Linked DNA regions of Homo sapiens. The protein of the gene in region 1 purifies or fractionates together with the protein of each later gene. This does not show direct contact. Each region holds a gene or a part of one and is shown on either strand. Other genes may lie near its edges. The genes, in order: RPF1, ZNF689, CCDC25 and STAU2.

The links.
Region 2: the proteins of RPF1 (region 1) and ZNF689 purify together in Homo sapiens (affinity purification with mass spectrometry; one large-scale study listed by BioGRID and IntAct). This does not show direct contact.
Region 3: the proteins of RPF1 (region 1) and CCDC25 purify together in Homo sapiens (co-immunoprecipitation; one large-scale study listed by IntAct). This does not show direct contact.
Region 4: the proteins of RPF1 (region 1) and STAU2 purify together in Homo sapiens (affinity purification with mass spectrometry; one large-scale study listed by BioGRID and IntAct). This does not show direct contact.

The regions. Positions count from the first base shown.
Region 1 is NC_000001.11:84,492,621-84,496,904, forward strand, and holds part of RPF1 (ribosome production factor 1), read left to right. Parts: intron 1-2,752; coding exon 2,753-2,835; intron 2,836-3,261; coding exon 3,262-3,443; intron 3,444-3,623; coding exon 3,624-3,750; intron 3,751-4,284.
Region 2 is NC_000016.10:30,604,650-30,608,099, forward strand, and holds part of ZNF689 (zinc finger protein 689), read right to left. Parts: intron 799-3,450; coding exon 1-798. UniProt on the Homo sapiens protein: May be involved in transcriptional regulation.
Region 3 is NC_000008.11:27,737,965-27,742,248, forward strand, and holds part of CCDC25 (coiled-coil domain-containing protein 25), read right to left. Parts: intron 2,554-4,284; coding exon 2,508-2,553; intron 1-2,507.
Region 4 is NC_000008.11:73,425,146-73,429,429, forward strand, and holds part of STAU2 (double-stranded RNA-binding protein Staufen homolog 2), read right to left. Parts: intron 1-4,284. UniProt on the Homo sapiens protein: RNA-binding protein required for the microtubule-dependent transport of neuronal RNA from the cell body to the dendrite.

The DNA.
Region 1 (4,284 bases):
ATGGTAGGCATTTTAGTAAACGTGGTATAGTGAGAAGCATGTAAACTTTATCTGTACAGACCTACATCCTCTATTCATTATTTCTAAATGGGGAACTACTGTTATTTGAGGTAGGGTAATTATTTGTGCTACACTCTTGGCAGCTTCCAAGATGGTTTGCATTCCTGGCCTTTGGATTCTAAATGCCAGTAACACCTCAGTCATACTGACAAACAAAATGCCTCTGTACATTTCCAAATGTGAGCAGCTGTCAGCAGGGGGCTTAAGCTAGGTGCAGTCCCACCGTGGTTGAGATCTGCAGTTGCCTTAGTCTGATTTACTTAGGCTAATTTACTTGACCCTCTTCAGCCTCTTTTCCTCATTACTGAAATAGGCATGATGACTCCTGTTTTATGTGATTTGTGTTAGGGATTAGCAGTAATGTAAATAAAGCCTCTTGCACAATGCAGGTACATGGGAAAAGAAGTTATTTAGAAACTGGTAAGTTTGGGTTTTGTACTTGGCTTTTGACACAGACCACAATTTAGTGGGAATGTTCTAGAAAGGATTTAAGCCTTGATTTGGGCGTTGGAAGAAATGACTTTTATATCTCCTAGACCCCTTAATAAATACTTTTGGCTGTATTTCATGAAGTTTAGCCTGTGGTGAATCTTTTAAAATGATAGAATTCAAACGTTTGCTGATAATCTGATGCATGGTAGGCACTACTATCAAAAAAAAAAAAAAAAAAAAGATCTGCCTGCAGTCCCAGCACTTTGGGAGGCTAAGGCAGGTGGATCGCTTGAGACCAGCCTGGGCAACATGGCAAAACCCTTTCTCTACAAAAATTAGCTGGGCATGATGCCTGTAGTCCCATTTACTTGGGAGGTTGAGGTGGGAGGATTGCTTGAGCCCGAGAGGTTGAGGCTGCAGTGACCCATGGTCGTGCCATTGCACTTCAGCCTGGGCTGCTGAGTGAGACCGTCTCAAAAAAAAAAAACAAAAGAAAAAAATTCCCATCCCTACCTAAGTTTTAACAGATTAGTTGGGAAGAAAGGTGTTTTCCTAACTCAAAAAGTGATGAGTGCTGTGGTAGCAGAACTGAGAAGATTTAGATCTTAATTCTGACTACATAAAAAGGTGACATTTGAAGTAGACCATAATAGATGAGTAAAACGTTGCAGGTATTCAAAATAGCAGAAGCAAAAAATGCATGCTAGGATTCACATATATAGTACATAAGACTGTGAGTACCTACCAGTTAGGAAACAGGCTTGATGTGGGCATAGGGTAAATAGGTTGAAAAGGTAATTTGTGGCCACATTATGAGTCTGATACTAATGTCTTTTTTCTGTAGATGAGTCTGTGATGAGAGTAGTATGAAATTAGCTACAGCTGTCAAGACTGTGAAGGTATCTAGTTTGTTTTTCACTTAGCATGTGAGAAACTATGGTACAGATATAATGAAACAGCTGAGTCCCATAGCTGGTTACTTATAGAACCAAGGCCTAAGTCCAGACTTGATTTTACAATCTGCATTAGGAGATGTACTTGAGATGGTGAGAAAAAGGTCAGACCAACCACAATACTACCTTAATAATCTAGGTGGAAAATCTTGAGGACCTCACTAAGACAGTAAGGGTAAAGAGGATGCTAAGTGAGAACTTCTGAAGGTAAAAGCAGTTAAGATTTGGTGGGAGAGGGAGAAGCTGAAGATACCATAGCTTCTAATCTGGAGGAATGAGTGTTGATGCCATTGTAAAAAGATGGCAACATCTGCTTTGAAAGATACATATTAAATGCAGATAGACTTGAAACCATCTGATTCTGGCCTATTTAAGTTGTTGAATCAGATGAAATGTGTTTGAAAATTTCTCCTAAACTAGAAAAGCATAATACAAAGTGAAAGCCCTGTCCATTGTCATTAATATGCCTGCTTGTAATGCCATTAAGCAATAGCCAAGAATTACTCATGAAAAGTAAAGGTGTTTCAAGTGAAGGTCAGATTGTGCCACAAACTTGAAGAATATTATATAGGTAGCAACCTTAGTTTGCAGCACCCAGGACTTCTAGAGTCCTTGGGCTGCTAGTCCTGCTGGTTGTAGGTAGGTGATCTCACATTTCATTTGTAGTTTAGCATGTCTAGCATAATTCTCAGTTCATGGGAAATGACAGTCAGTGAATGGCTATTAATTGGTTTGTTGATTATAATTTGGGGTACAGTAATCCTAAGTAAGGGGTGATCTCTTGCAAAATACTAATAACCTTAATTTCATAGAGGAAAGTTTAGGAGTCTGGTCTCATGGGATGTTATTCAAAGTTGACAGCATATCGTGACCATACAAATGTATAAAAGTGACATTTTGGGGTTATACATCTTTAGAACGTGGAGGTAAACTCATACTCTATTTGCAGTGTTACATGATTATAGAATCACATCCTATTTTACTCCTAAGAGTAGTGGTCAATTAAATAGCTTTTTTTCACCTACTTTAGTTTAGGGTACCTTAAGATACCCTATTGAGCGTGATTAACTATTATATTGTAAAAAGAGAAAAAAAGGACTACTCTAGGTTAGTCTATATTCTTGAAAGATTTTGACTGATTTTGAGCTTTTGATATGGTAGGAAAATGTCACTTCAGAGGAATATGTACATCTGCCTATTCACTTGGGTACAGATTTTAGGGGCCTTTGGATGTAGAGGACCAGTTATTTAAACAATTAGATTTAGATTACAGAGTTCAATGTGTTTTTCTTAACTTTTATGAACAGATGGACTTATTTTGAGTCACTTGCCAAATGGCCCAACTGCTCATTTTAAAATGAGCAGTGTTCGTCTTCGTAAAGAAATTAAGGTAAGTTTTATACATTTCTTTGATTGGCATTGATCTCTTCACAATATTTATTTGATCAATAGATGCTGTATCTTATAGCTCTAATTTATTTTAATAATGGCATTTGTTCTCCTGATTAGAGCAGTTTTTAATCTATCAATTCTCTTGGGAGACTGTGGTTAAGTTACAGCCGGCAGGCAATAGTCTTCATTACTATGAAGCACGTTGATTTTCTAATAGGATTTTTTTGTTGTTGCATTCAGTGCATATTAAAATAATTTTAGATACATCTTATTTCATGGGTTTGATAAGCCATCTGTGGTAGTTTGTCACTAAAAAATACATTTTGCAAATTTGTCATGTAAATTTTGATACTTGAAATTGCATTGGGACGTATTGCCAATTAGCTTAGCCCATTGTGATATTTATTTTTCATTATTTTTCTAGAGAAGAGGCAAGGACCCCACAGAACACATACCTGAAATAATTCTGAATAATTTTACAACACGGCTGGGTCATTCAATTGGACGTATGTTTGCATCTCTCTTTCCTCATAATCCTCAATTTATCGGAAGGCAGGTTGCCACATTCCACAATCAACGGGATTACATATTCTTCAGATTTCACAGGTGAGGAAGGTAAACTCATTGAACTTTGATTTCAATTATGAAATATATTTTCAACATGAACTAATTTTCCAACATATTGTAGCAAGTATCATACAAGATAAAATGAATTATCTTTTGAACCCTGTCATAATGTTAAACAATAGCTCATTCAGACTAATTTAACTCTTTTTGTCTTTGAAGATACATATTCAGGAGTGAAAAGAAAGTGGGAATTCAGGAACTTGGACCACGTTTTACCTTAAAATTAAGGTCTCTTCAGAAAGGAACCTTTGATTCTAAATATGGAGAGTATGAATGGGTCCATAAGGTATGTGCTTATTGTTTAAAAAGACTAAGTCATTTTTAAAGTATGGGATAAGAGGGTGGGAGGAGAGAGAGCATCAGGAATAGCTAATGGATGCTGGGCTTAATACCTAGGTGATGAAATGATCTGTGCAGCAAACCACTATAGCACGTTTACCTATGTAACAAACCTGTACATCCTGCACATATACCCTTGAACTAAAAAAAAAAAAAAAAAAGATACAATATCTGGGTCTGGTGATTAACCTTGGCTCATCTGAAGTATAAACATTAGTGGTTCTCAAAGCGAGACCAGCACCATTACCTAGGAACCTATTAGGAATGAAAATTCTTTGGCCCACAGACCTACTCGATCAGCAATTTAGGGGGTGGGACCCAGCAGCAATCTGCTTATAAGCCTGTGTTATATGTGACTCTACTACATGTTTCTTGAGAACTATTGATAAGTTTTCTTAGAAGTTTGGAGATCATCATCTTAAATCATAAATGAAAACTTTTTTGTTGTTGTTGTTTTGTTTTTTTTGAGATGAGTCTCAGC
Region 2 (3,450 bases), on another chromosome or scaffold:
AGGGCTTCTCTCCGGTGTGCAAGAGCTGGTGCTGGAGCAGCGTGCTGCGCTGGGAGAAGCGGGCCTCACAGTGCTCGCAGGCATAGGGACGCTCCCCAGAGTGCACACGCCGGTGACTGACCAGGCGAGAGGAGGAGGAGAAGCGCCGCTCGCAGTCCGGGCACGGGTAGGGCTTCTCGCCCGTGTGGATGCGCTGGTGGATGACGAGGGCCGTGCGCTGGCGGAAGCGGCGGTTGCACTCGAGGCAAGTGTAGGGCTTCTCTCCCGTGTGTGTACGCTGGTGGATGGCTAGCAGGGAGGGGTAGGCGAAGCGACGTCCACAGCTAGGGCACTGGTGGGGTTTTTCACCTGTGTGTGTGGTCCGGTGATTGGCCAAGGACCGGCTCCTCCGGAAGCAGCGACCACAGTCAGGGCAGTGATAGGGCTTCTCCCCTGTATGGATGACCTGGTGCTGGGAGAGGTTCTTGCGCTGGGAGAAACGTTTGCCACACTGGTCACAAACATAGGGGCACTCGCCGGAGTGTGCCCGCCGGTGACTGACCAGCAGGGATGGATAGGAAAAGCGGCGCCCACAGTCTGGGCAAGGGTAAGGCTTTTTTAGATTCTGGGCGCACTTGTGGCTCTCCAGGGCCTGATGATCAGGGAAGGTACAGCCGCAGTCAGGGCAGATGGGGCCCCCGGACGTCTGCCTAGGAATCAGTCGGGGTTTGCTGGGCCTCCGGCCTCGCTTCCCCTTTCGGGGTGCCTCCTTAGGCGGGAATACTTCCTTCTCCCCATTCTTCTTTCTGGTTCTGCTTTCTATAGAAATACAGAAGCATTAATTTAACAAATACTGGGCTCCTGCTCTTGTCAATTACATTATAGGTTACAAGACCAATAGACTCACCCCCTGGTCTCAATTCCTAGTGCCACAGACAGCTAAGTGTGACATACTGTCATGCAAATACGGTGTGCATTACAGGAGCTTCTAACCCAGCTTGGAGAAGTCTAGGAAGATTTCTCGGAGATTAAACTAACTTTAAAAATTGAGGCCGGGCACAGTGGATCACGCTTGTAATCGTAAGCACTGGGAGGCCGAGGCGGGCAGATCACAAGGTCAGGAGTTTGAGAGCAGCCTGACCAACATGGTGAAACCCTGTTTCTACTAAAAATACAAAAATTAGCCGGGCGTGGTGGCACGCACCTGTAATCCCAGCTACCCAGAAGGCTGAGGCAGGAGAATCGCCCGGGAGGCAGAGGTTGCAGTGAGCCGAGATTGTGCCACTGCACTCCAACCTGGGCGAGAGAGCGAGATTCCATCTCAAAAAAAAAAAAAAAAGGAATATTTTTGAAGAGGTAAGCTTACATCATTCAAAAGTCAAAATATCAGCCAGGCATGGTTGCTCATGCCTGTAATCCCAGCACTTTGGGAGCCCAAGGCAAGAGATCGCTTGAACCCAGGAGTTCAAGATCAGCCTGGGCAGCATAGTGAGACCCCATCTCTACAAAAAATACAAATATTAGCCTGGCCTGGTGGCACGCGTGCCTGCCTGTAGTCCTAGCTACTTGGAAGGCTGAGGTAGAGGATTACTTGAGCCCAGGAGTTCAAGGCTACTGTGAACCATGATGGCACCACTGTACTCCAGCCTGGGCAACACAGCAAGACCCTATCTCAAAAAACAAACAAGTCAAAATATTAATAAAGGAATACAGAGAAGTCTTGCTGCCACCTTTTTCCAATCTACCTTGTAGAAACCATATTAGTTTTTTCCCATTTTTTTGATGCAATACAAATGTCACCTTCCCTATCTTTCTTTCATAAGAGATTGCATACACATGCTTTACAGCGTATGTTCTCTTCCCCACCTTTCTTTTTTTTTTTCTTTTTTGAGACAGAGTCACGCTCTGTCACCCAGGCTGGAGTGCAATGGTGTGATCTCAGTTCACTGAAATCTCCGCCTCCCGGGTTCAAGTGATTCTCCCTGCCTCAGCCTCCTAAGTAGCTGGGATTACAGGCATGCACCACTATGCCCAGCTAATTTTTTGTATTTTTAGTAGAGTCAGGGTTTCACCATGTTGGCCAGGTTGGTCTCGAACTCCTGACCTCAGGTTATCTGCTCACCTCTATCTCCCAAAGTGACTACAGGCGTGAGCCACCATGCCCAGCTCACCTTTCTTATACAAAAGACAACATATACACACCTTATACACACTTTACATTTTTTCACTTAATATATTCTAAAGATCATTTTATGTCAGCAAATCTTTTTTCTATTTTACAGCTACACAGAATTCCATTGTGGATGGTTTATTTGACTTAGCTGATTCTTTAAAAAATGTGGCTGGGCGTGGTGGCTCATGTCTGTAATCCTAGCACTTTAGGAGGCTGAGGCAGGCGGATCACCTGAGGTCAGGAGTTCAAGACCAGCCTGGCCAACATGGTGAAACCCCGTCTCTACAAAAATATAAAAATTAGCTGGGCACAATAGCAGGTGCCTATAATCCCAGCTACCCAGAGGCTGAGGTGGGAGAATCACTTGATCCTGGGAGGCGGAGGTTGCAGTGAGCCAAGATCACGCCATTGCACTCCAGCCTGCATGACAGAGTGAGACTCCATCTCAAAAAAAAAAAAAAAAAAAAAAAAAAGAATTAAAATTATGCAGTGTTAGAAACGTAAGTCCCAGCCAAGCGCAGTGGCTCATTCCTATAATCCCAGCACTTTGGGAGGCCAAGGTGGGCGGACTGTGAGGTCAGGAGTTCGAGACCAGCCTGGCCAACATGGTGAAACCCCGTCTCTACTAAAAATACAAAAATTAGCCGTGCATGCTGGCGGGCGCCTGTAATCCCAGCTACTTGGGAAACTGAGTCAAGATGATTACTTGAAACCGGAAGGCAAAGGTTGCAGTGAGCCAAGATTGCACTACTACACTCCAGCCTGGGTGGAAGAGCAAAACTCCGTCTCAAAAAAAAAAAAGAAAAGAAACATAAGTCCCAAGGCTCAGTGTACAGTGTGCACAGGCCCTAAGATCTTCTTAGACACAAAGTGTAAAAGCAAGACAGGCTGGGCGCGGTGGCTTACACCTGCAATCCCAGCACTTTGGAAGGCCAAGGCAGGCGGATCACCTGAGGTCAGGAGTTCGAGACCAGCTTGACCAATATGGAGAAACCCTGTCTCTACTAAAAATTAGCCGGGTGTGATCGTGGGCACCTGTAGTCCCACCTACTCCAGAGGCTGAGACAGGAGAATTGCTTGAAACCGGGAGCAAGAGGTTACAGTGAGCTGAGATCGTGCCACTGCACTCCTGCCTGGGCAACAGAGCAAGACTCCGTCTCACACACACACAAAAGAGTGTAAGGCAAGATATGGAAACCTATGAGGTATGAGCTAGCAGTGACTGGGTCAAAAGGCCCTCTAAGCCAATGGTTCTCAAACTCCACTGTGATCAGAATCATTGGGAGGATTTACTGAAA
Region 3 (4,284 bases), on another chromosome or scaffold:
GACCTGGATGAGACTGGAGACTATTATTCTAAGTGAAGTAACTCAGGAATGGAAAACCAAACATTGTATGTTATCACTGATATGTGGGAGCTAAGCTATGAGGATGCAAAGGCGTAAGAATGATACGATGGACTTTGGGGACTTAGGGGGAAGAGTGGGAGGGGGGTGAGGGATAAAAGACTACAAATATGGTGCAGTGTTTACTGCTTGGGTGACGGATGCACCAAAATCTCACAAATTACCTCTAAAGAACTTACTCATGTAGCCAAATACCATCTGTACCCCAATAACTTATGGAAACAAAACAAAACAAAACAAAACACAAACATCTGTATCCCTTAACAGAAGACGGTTACAAGGAGAATTAGTCTATTCTTTTAAAGTATGGAGAAAAACTAGGAAAACATTTTCACTGAAAGAGAGAATAAAAACACCCAGTGCAAAACTTCCTTGGAATCTTGAACTTGATTCATACTTGGAGCTCAGGAACAGGGGTTGCAAGCAACAGAGGGAGAGTTAGGGTAGAAAGATTAGCAATCTTTTGGGCTACAAATTCAATTTCCTAGTCTCGGGACTTTTAACATCTGTCACTGATCAGATGGTGTTTGTATATGTATGTATGTAGGTCGGTAGGTAGGTGTGTGTGTGTGTGTGTGTGTGTATTTGTTTATTTCTCAACTCTAGAATTATATACAAGCTTTAAAAATCCAAAATGATGAGAATAAAATGACTAAGGTCATGAAATAATATGGGGGCTAGATTTCTGGTGGAAAGTGCCTCTAAAACACAGAAAACTTCAATAAGCAAAATAACCACAACAATGGCATCTGAGTTGTGGTATGTTGAAGACTACTGTTTAGTGTTAAACTGTTCCAATAGTTTCAAGAAATCTAAAATTAGCTTCCAGAAAGGATTAAACACATCTCATCTTTTCATAATGATATTCTGGAAAAACAGCAACCAAAGACTATCTGGATAAGGTATGACTATTTACAAAGTAGGTCAAGGAAGACTTTCACATCGATGTGTCTTTGCTTCAATTCTAAGCAGCCCTGTGAAATAATATGTGTCCATTTTACTGATGATGAATACTCCCTCAGAGAGGTTAAATGACTTTATTAGGATCTAACCCAACCACTGTGACAACGTTCCCTTGCCCAAGGGATGTTTAATCCCCCCCACCTCAATTAGCACATGACAGTTAAGTCTCTAAACTTCAAATTCAAAGCTCTATTTAATTTAATAATGCTATTCTGGAATTTTTCAGGAATAAATTATAAAGAAACATCTCTGATTCATAAAGGAGCCTCGTACATTTAGTTCTTCATAGAGATGGGAATAAGAATGTTGTTCTTACAAATTTTTAGAAGAATATGTAGATATAAACAAGATGTAAAATCCTATTACTTCTAATTCATGCACTAAATCTGAGGTTTGACTAGATGACTTGTAAGGGATCTTAAATTCTGTTACAGTTGGCCCTTGATTTCTTTATCTGTGAATTCAACCAACCTCAGCTCAAAAATATTTAGAGGAAAAAAACAATTAAAAAAATACAATAAAAATAATATAAATTAAAAAAATACAGTATAACAACTATTTACATAGCATTTACACTAATTAGGTATTATAAGTAATCTAGAGATAAAGTATATGGAAGGATGTGCATATGTTATATGCAAATACTACTCCATTTTACACAAGGGACTCAAGCATCCTAGGATTTTGGTAGCTTCGGGGAGTCCTGGAACCAATCCCCCATGAATACTGAAGGATGACTATATTTTTAAACTATACTATAAAACATGCAAAATCCCAAATACATCCACCCAGTTTCCATTTTCTGCAGACTGCTCAATAGCAGCTAAATTGTGCTATCTCTAGACACTTCAAGATAAATTTTGGGAAAGACAGCCCTCAAGGACAATAATTCTCTGACATAGTTCCAATCAAATAATTAGACGCAATGTTAAGAAGATCCTTTCAGTACTATGTCATAGGTCACCATCTGTTTCTATCCCAGGTCCTAAGGAACATGAAAACAAACAATTTTGTCACTTAGGCTTCACTGAGTCACATAAGATCTTAGGGTAAGTTATTTTAATTGAAGGTGATAATTTTGTTCTCATTCAATTATAATATGGACTCTACAGTCACAGTGATAAAGAACACTAATAAATAAAGGCACTTTTGCATGCCTGCAACCAGAAAAGAGGGGAAATAAAGAATAAAGTCCTGTAAATATAAAATGAATAGACCTGTACGCCACAGTAGACAAGCTCTGACAATCTCTTTCCCTGAGATGACCTACTTAACAACACAAATGAGAAAGTCCACAGGGAAGGAGGTGCAGTGCCTAAAAGAATCCAGCCTGAGTGGTGTCCTGGTTGCCAAATCATGGTTAGCTATTTGCAACATGTAAGGCAATAATGGCCAGTAACACAATTATTAAAAACCCTTAGTGAATTATTTCAAGGCAAACATTCATGCAAACCACTTGAACATACCTGATTTGAAGACATATTTTCAACTTTCATTAGTGATGAATAGCTCCTAGAAGGAAAAAAACACACACACACATTTAAAATATGGTGATCCAGTCAACAAATATTTGATGAACATTTCCTGTGTATCCAGCACTGCTCAGGGGCTTTAGAAGAAACACAAGAGCTATTAGATATAATCTCTGCACTCAAGGAGATTGCAACATTCAAAGGATGAATATTTATAAACAATAAAAAAGATGTGCACAGCACTTTATAATTTACAAAGTGCTTTCTCCTACTTGTTTCATGTCACCACCTCCACAATAACTTGGCGAGACAGGTGGCATTATTCCTACTTTTCAGATGGGGAAATTCACCTACAGCCAAGATCTGATAAGATTCACAGCTGAGGTATACAGCTCAGATTGTAAACGCTACAGGAATTCAAAGGAGGAAACACATCAGTGTGGGCAGGAGCTGTCAGGGCACCCTTCACAGACAAGGCGGAACCCAAACCAAGCCAATCAAGTGGGCAGGATGAGTGAGGGGGCATTTCAGATCCAGAGAGTGGGATGAGCAAAGAGACAGAGATGGTATCTTTAATGACTTGCTGAATATCCAGCTAACTCAGGTAGGTTCTCAAATAAAGTAGTGGGAAATCAGGCTGGATGTGGTGCCCAATTATGTTGTCTTGATTGCACGACTGAACACAATGTGTTCCGCAAGAAGCCATAATACACAACTGAGTAAAGCCATAATGAGGTTCAATGGGCATTCATTAAATATCCATGTGCATAAGACCCTGTGCTAAGCCTGGGTAGAGGATCGGATGAGAAGAAAACAGAAAATGATGACTAACACAAAGCCTGGACCCACAGAACTTACTGGGAGGGGAAATAAGACTTATTCATCAATAACTATGGTGAAAAGCACTATTAAAAAATACACGGCTGGGGGCAGTGGCTCACGCCTGTAATCCCAGCACTGTGGGAGGCCAACGCGGGCAGATCACAAAGTCAGGGGTTCGAGAGCAGCCTGACCAATGTGGTGAAACCCCATCTCTACTAAAAATACAAAAATTAGCAAGCGTGGTGGCGTGCACCTGTAATCCCAGCTACTCAGGAGGCTGAGGCAGGAGAATCACTTGAACCTAGGAGGTGGAGGTTGCAGTGAGCTGAGATTGCACCACTGCACTCCAACATGGGCGACAGAGCAAGACTCCATCTCAAACGACAACAACAACAAATACACCAAGAGACAAAGGAAAGTGAGACTACATAATACCAATGTTTTGAAAAGAATAATCTGTAGCAAACAAGATTAGAGAGGTGGTTAAGACAAGAAGGTCCATTCACAATAACAGTATTTACCAGAGTATTTTAAGCCCATTGTACAAAATAAGAAAGCAGAGTCAGGATGGTTAAGTAAGTTGTTCAAGGTCTTAGAGATAAGAAGATATGCCAGGTTTTGAACCCAGGTCAGACTCCTAAGCTTATACTCTTATCAGGCCACAGCTTATTGCGATACTCCAATTTGAGGGCATGAATCCCTGGAGTTAACAGCTGTAATGGTAAGAAGGAATACAGAGAAGAAACAACAATGACATCAAGGTTTGTAGCTTGGGCAATTTGAAAAAAATAGGAGAAATGGGAAAATGTTGCAAAGAAGATGTGCCTGGTTTGAGACATGCCGCATTTGAAGTCATAGTGAGATACCCAAGTAAATATGAACTGTAGAAACTGAAAACTGAAGACCAGTGGGAAGGAGAAATGTCACAGTCAAAGATAATGAGTTGGGA
Region 4 (4,284 bases), on another chromosome or scaffold:
TTGAAGTCCTAACCCCCAGTATCTCAGAATGGGGCCTTATAGAATGTGGCCTTATTTAAAAATAGGATTAGTACAGATGTAATTAGTTAAGATGAGGTCATACTGGAGTAGGGTAGGTCCCTGATCCAATATAACTGGTATCCTTATAAAAAGAGGAAACTGGAACACAGACCCACACAGGGAGAACGCCACGTGAAGATGGTGGTAGGGGCTGGAGTGATGCCGCAGCAGCCAAGGAACACCAAAGATTGCCAGCAAAGCACTCGAAGTGAGGAGAGGGGCCTGGGACAGATTCTCCCTCACAGCCTTCAGAAGGAACCAGCCCTGCCAGCACCTTGATCTTGAACTTCTAGCCTCCAGAACTGTGAGACAATACACTCCTGTTGATGAAGCCACTCAGTTGGTAGTACTTTACTACAGCAGCTCCAGCAAACTGTACAGGGACCTCATAGCTTCTCTTTAAGGATAGCAAAATCTCTCTCTCTCTCTCTCTTCTCTCTCTCTCCCTGTATTATTTTTTGTTATAAAAATAGTTTTTTGTTACAGAAAAGTCAGAATATATAGACAAGCAAAAAGAATGTAAAAAGTATCCACAATCCTGCTCACCATTCACATCTTGGCGCACGTCTTTCCATATCACTTGTTTTTTTTCTCTCTTTTTTTTTGAGATGGAGTCTTACTCTGTCACCCAGGCTGGAGTGCAGTGGTGTGATCTTGACTCACTGCAACCTCCACTTCCTGGGTTCAAGCAATTCTTGCACCTCAGCCTCCTGAGTAGTTGGGATTACAGGCATGAGCCACCACACCCAGCTAATGTTTGTACTTTTAGTAGAGACAGGGTTGCACCATGTTGGCCAGGCTGGTCTTGAACTCCTAGCCTCAAGTGATCCACCTGCCCCAGCCTCCCAAAGTATTGGGATTACAGGCATGCGCCTCTGCCCCCAGCCTCCATATCACTTAGTATCCTCTCCCCATGTCTACAAACTGTAGCCTGGATCATGTCTTAACACTGTAGGTAACCTGCTTTTTTTTTTTTCAATGATAAATAATAATTGTACACATTCATGGGGTGGGTAACAATGTTGCAATACACATAATGCATAGTGATCAGATCAAGGTAATTAGTACATCAATCATCTCAAACATTTATCATTTCTTTTTGTTGGGTTCATACAATATTCTCCTTCTAGCTGCTTGAAACTATAGAACATATTACTGTTAACTATAGTCTTTCTACAGTGGTATAGAGCAATAGAACTTATTCCTCATATCTAGCTATAATTTTGTATCCTTTAATAAATTTCTCCCTATCCCTCTCTTCCCCCTACCCTTCCCAACCTCTAATATCCTCTGTTCTACTTTTTACTTCTGTAAGATCAACCTTTTTAGCTTCCACACATGAGCAAGAACAAGTGGTGTTTAACTTTCTGTGCCCTGCTCATTTCACTTCACATTCGCCCAGTTTCATCCACATGGCCATAAATGACAGGATTTCATTCTTTTTTTACGGCCGAGTAGTATTCCATTGTATACATATACCATGGTTTTTTGTCCGTTCATCTGTTGTGTGCTCTTTTCATTGAATGTGTGCAGTATCAACAGAAACATTTCGGTAGCATCATTTCTCATGACTGCACAGTATCCTATCGATATCCTGTGTGATACCAACACTGCATCAAATTTCCTATTGGTTCAATCTTTATGCATCATCTCAATACTTTCCTTATGATAAATTCCTAAAATTGCATTTCTGAGCCAAAGATGATGTCCATTTTTAAAGATTTTTTTTTTTTTTTTTTTGAGACAGAGTTTTGCTCTTGTTGCCCAGGCTGGAGTGCAATGGCGTGAACTCGGCCCACCACAACCTCTGCCTCCCGGGTTCAAGCGATTCTCCTGCCTCAGCCTCCCGAGTAGCTGGGATTACAGGCATGCACCACCACGCCAGATTACTTTTGTGTTTTTAGTAGAGATGGGGTTTCTCCATGTTGGTCAGGCTGGTCTCGAACTCCCGACCTCAGGTGACCCGCCTGCCTCAGCCTCCCAAAGTGCTAGGATTACATGCGTGAGCCACTGTGCCCAGCCTTAAAGATGTTAATATGAGCTCTCTATCCACCCTTGGAGAGGTTGTGCCGGCAGCAGCAGTGGGAGGAGGGTGTTACTCTAGGTGCTTCTGGAATTACCTCTCAGAACCATTTTGTGGGTCAGAGAAGCAAACCAGTTTTGTCATCTTTTGGCCCCACCTTATTTTAATGTGTTCATCCTGGTTGTTGACCTTCTTCACTAGACTTGGCTTTGTCTGAAGTTTTGCTGTTTTCAAAAATTAAACTCACCCTCAAAAGACTGAGGTTTGGACAGTTCTCCCCACCCTCCCTGCAAGAAAGGAATTCACAGAGGAATTTGACTCTCAGGGAGCTTTGATTCAGTGACTCTGAGGTCCTTTTAAGTCCTGAAGTGCTAAGGCGGCTATGCTGAGGGCAGTGCATGTGCCCACAGCCTGTGTCCATCAACCGGGGCCCACTGTCCCACCTCACACATGCGCGTGGGGCGCTAAAGGCCAGGCTCACTCACTTGTAGGCTCCAAGGACCAATCCATGCCAGACCTTTTTCCAGATATTCCCATTTTCACGGAGTGGGCTCATGAACTTCAAGTTCTTTGTATATTCAACAGTTTTAACAAAAGACCAGTTACTTTTCTTCTGAGCCATTAAAATGTGAATTATTGGCATAAATTCTGAAATTTATGAATTTCTTCCAAAGTGGACAATTACATTTGAAATTTTATTATTTTTTGTAACATAATGATAAATTATTTAACATTTTCTGTGATGACAACACCTGAAATATACTCTCAGAGCAATATCAAAATGTGCAGTACTCAACTGTTAGCTATATTCACCACACTGTGCAGTAGATGTCCAAAAAAATCAAACTTATCCTTTTTATCTGACTGAGACTTTGTACCCTTTGACTATCATTTTCCCATTCCACCTACCCCCAGCCTCTGTACCCACCACTGTACTCTCTGCTTCTGGGAGTTCAATTGTTTTATATCTCACATATAAATGAGAACATGTGGGATTTGTCTATGTTTGGCATATTTCACTTAGCATAATGTTCTCCAATTCTATCCATGTTGTTGCAAATGACATAATTTCTTCCTTTTTAAAAGCTGAACATATTCCATTGTGTCTATATACCACATTTTCTTTTTCCATTCATCCATTAATGGACATTTAGGTTGATCCCACATCTTTGCTATTGTGAATACTGTTGCAATAAACATGAGGGTGCAGATATCTCTTGACACACAAATTTCAAACTTTTTAGGTAAATACCCAGATGTGACAGTGCTGGATCCCAAAAGCACCATCACAGAGGGCTACTGAGAGCCAGGAAATGGAACTGTGCAATGTGATACTGCTGAATGGGGTTCCTACGAGCTCTAGGGCTTCTCGGTCCTGTTTTATTCCTAGCAAGGGCAAAACAACAACTAAAAACAATTTTTAAAAATCTTTTAAAAAATCGTTTTTAGGCTACTTATAGCCTGTTTTCACTAGGTACACTGGGAATACTTGGTTCTTAGTGTGGCCTGAACACCAGAACCAAATGACCTGCTTCACCCAGTCCAGGACCCATGGCACCTGCTCTCTTCCATCTGAAGAGAACTGCATATATGAGACGAAGGCCAGGTCTCAGGGAGCAGCTTCAGCGTTTTAGCTCTTGCAAAATCTCCTGGACGATTTTATCAACATGCCAGGCAGGTCCCCCGTGCACTGTCAAAATGATCGTCATCCCTCCAAGAATGTCCTAGAGTCTGGAATGGCGGCGTGCTCTCTCACTTGATGCCACGAATGGATTTTCAGAATTCTTGCGTGGCTGCTCTCCTCCACAGGTATGCTTAAAAGCTTCCAAGGGGCAGTCCCTTATCTACCTGATCAGATAACTCAACCCACATCTCACTGATAACCCTGAATACAATAGCTTATAAGTATGAGAGGGATTTCTTTTCAATTTATAAGAGGCAGTGGTGACCGATTTATCTTAACCTATGTAAACAGTAATAGCTACCATTCGATGAGCATCACTCCGCCATTGTCATGGGACTGGCCCTTTACCTGCCATGACCTGAGTTGTTATCACAGCCTTGTGAGATAGTTCCTACCCATAAGGAAACAGAGGCTCAGAGAATTCAGTAACCTACTTAAGGTCACACAGCTAATAAGTGGCAGAGCAGAGATTTGAAACCAATCTATATTCTTGCTCAGGTCTTTTTTTTTTTTTTTT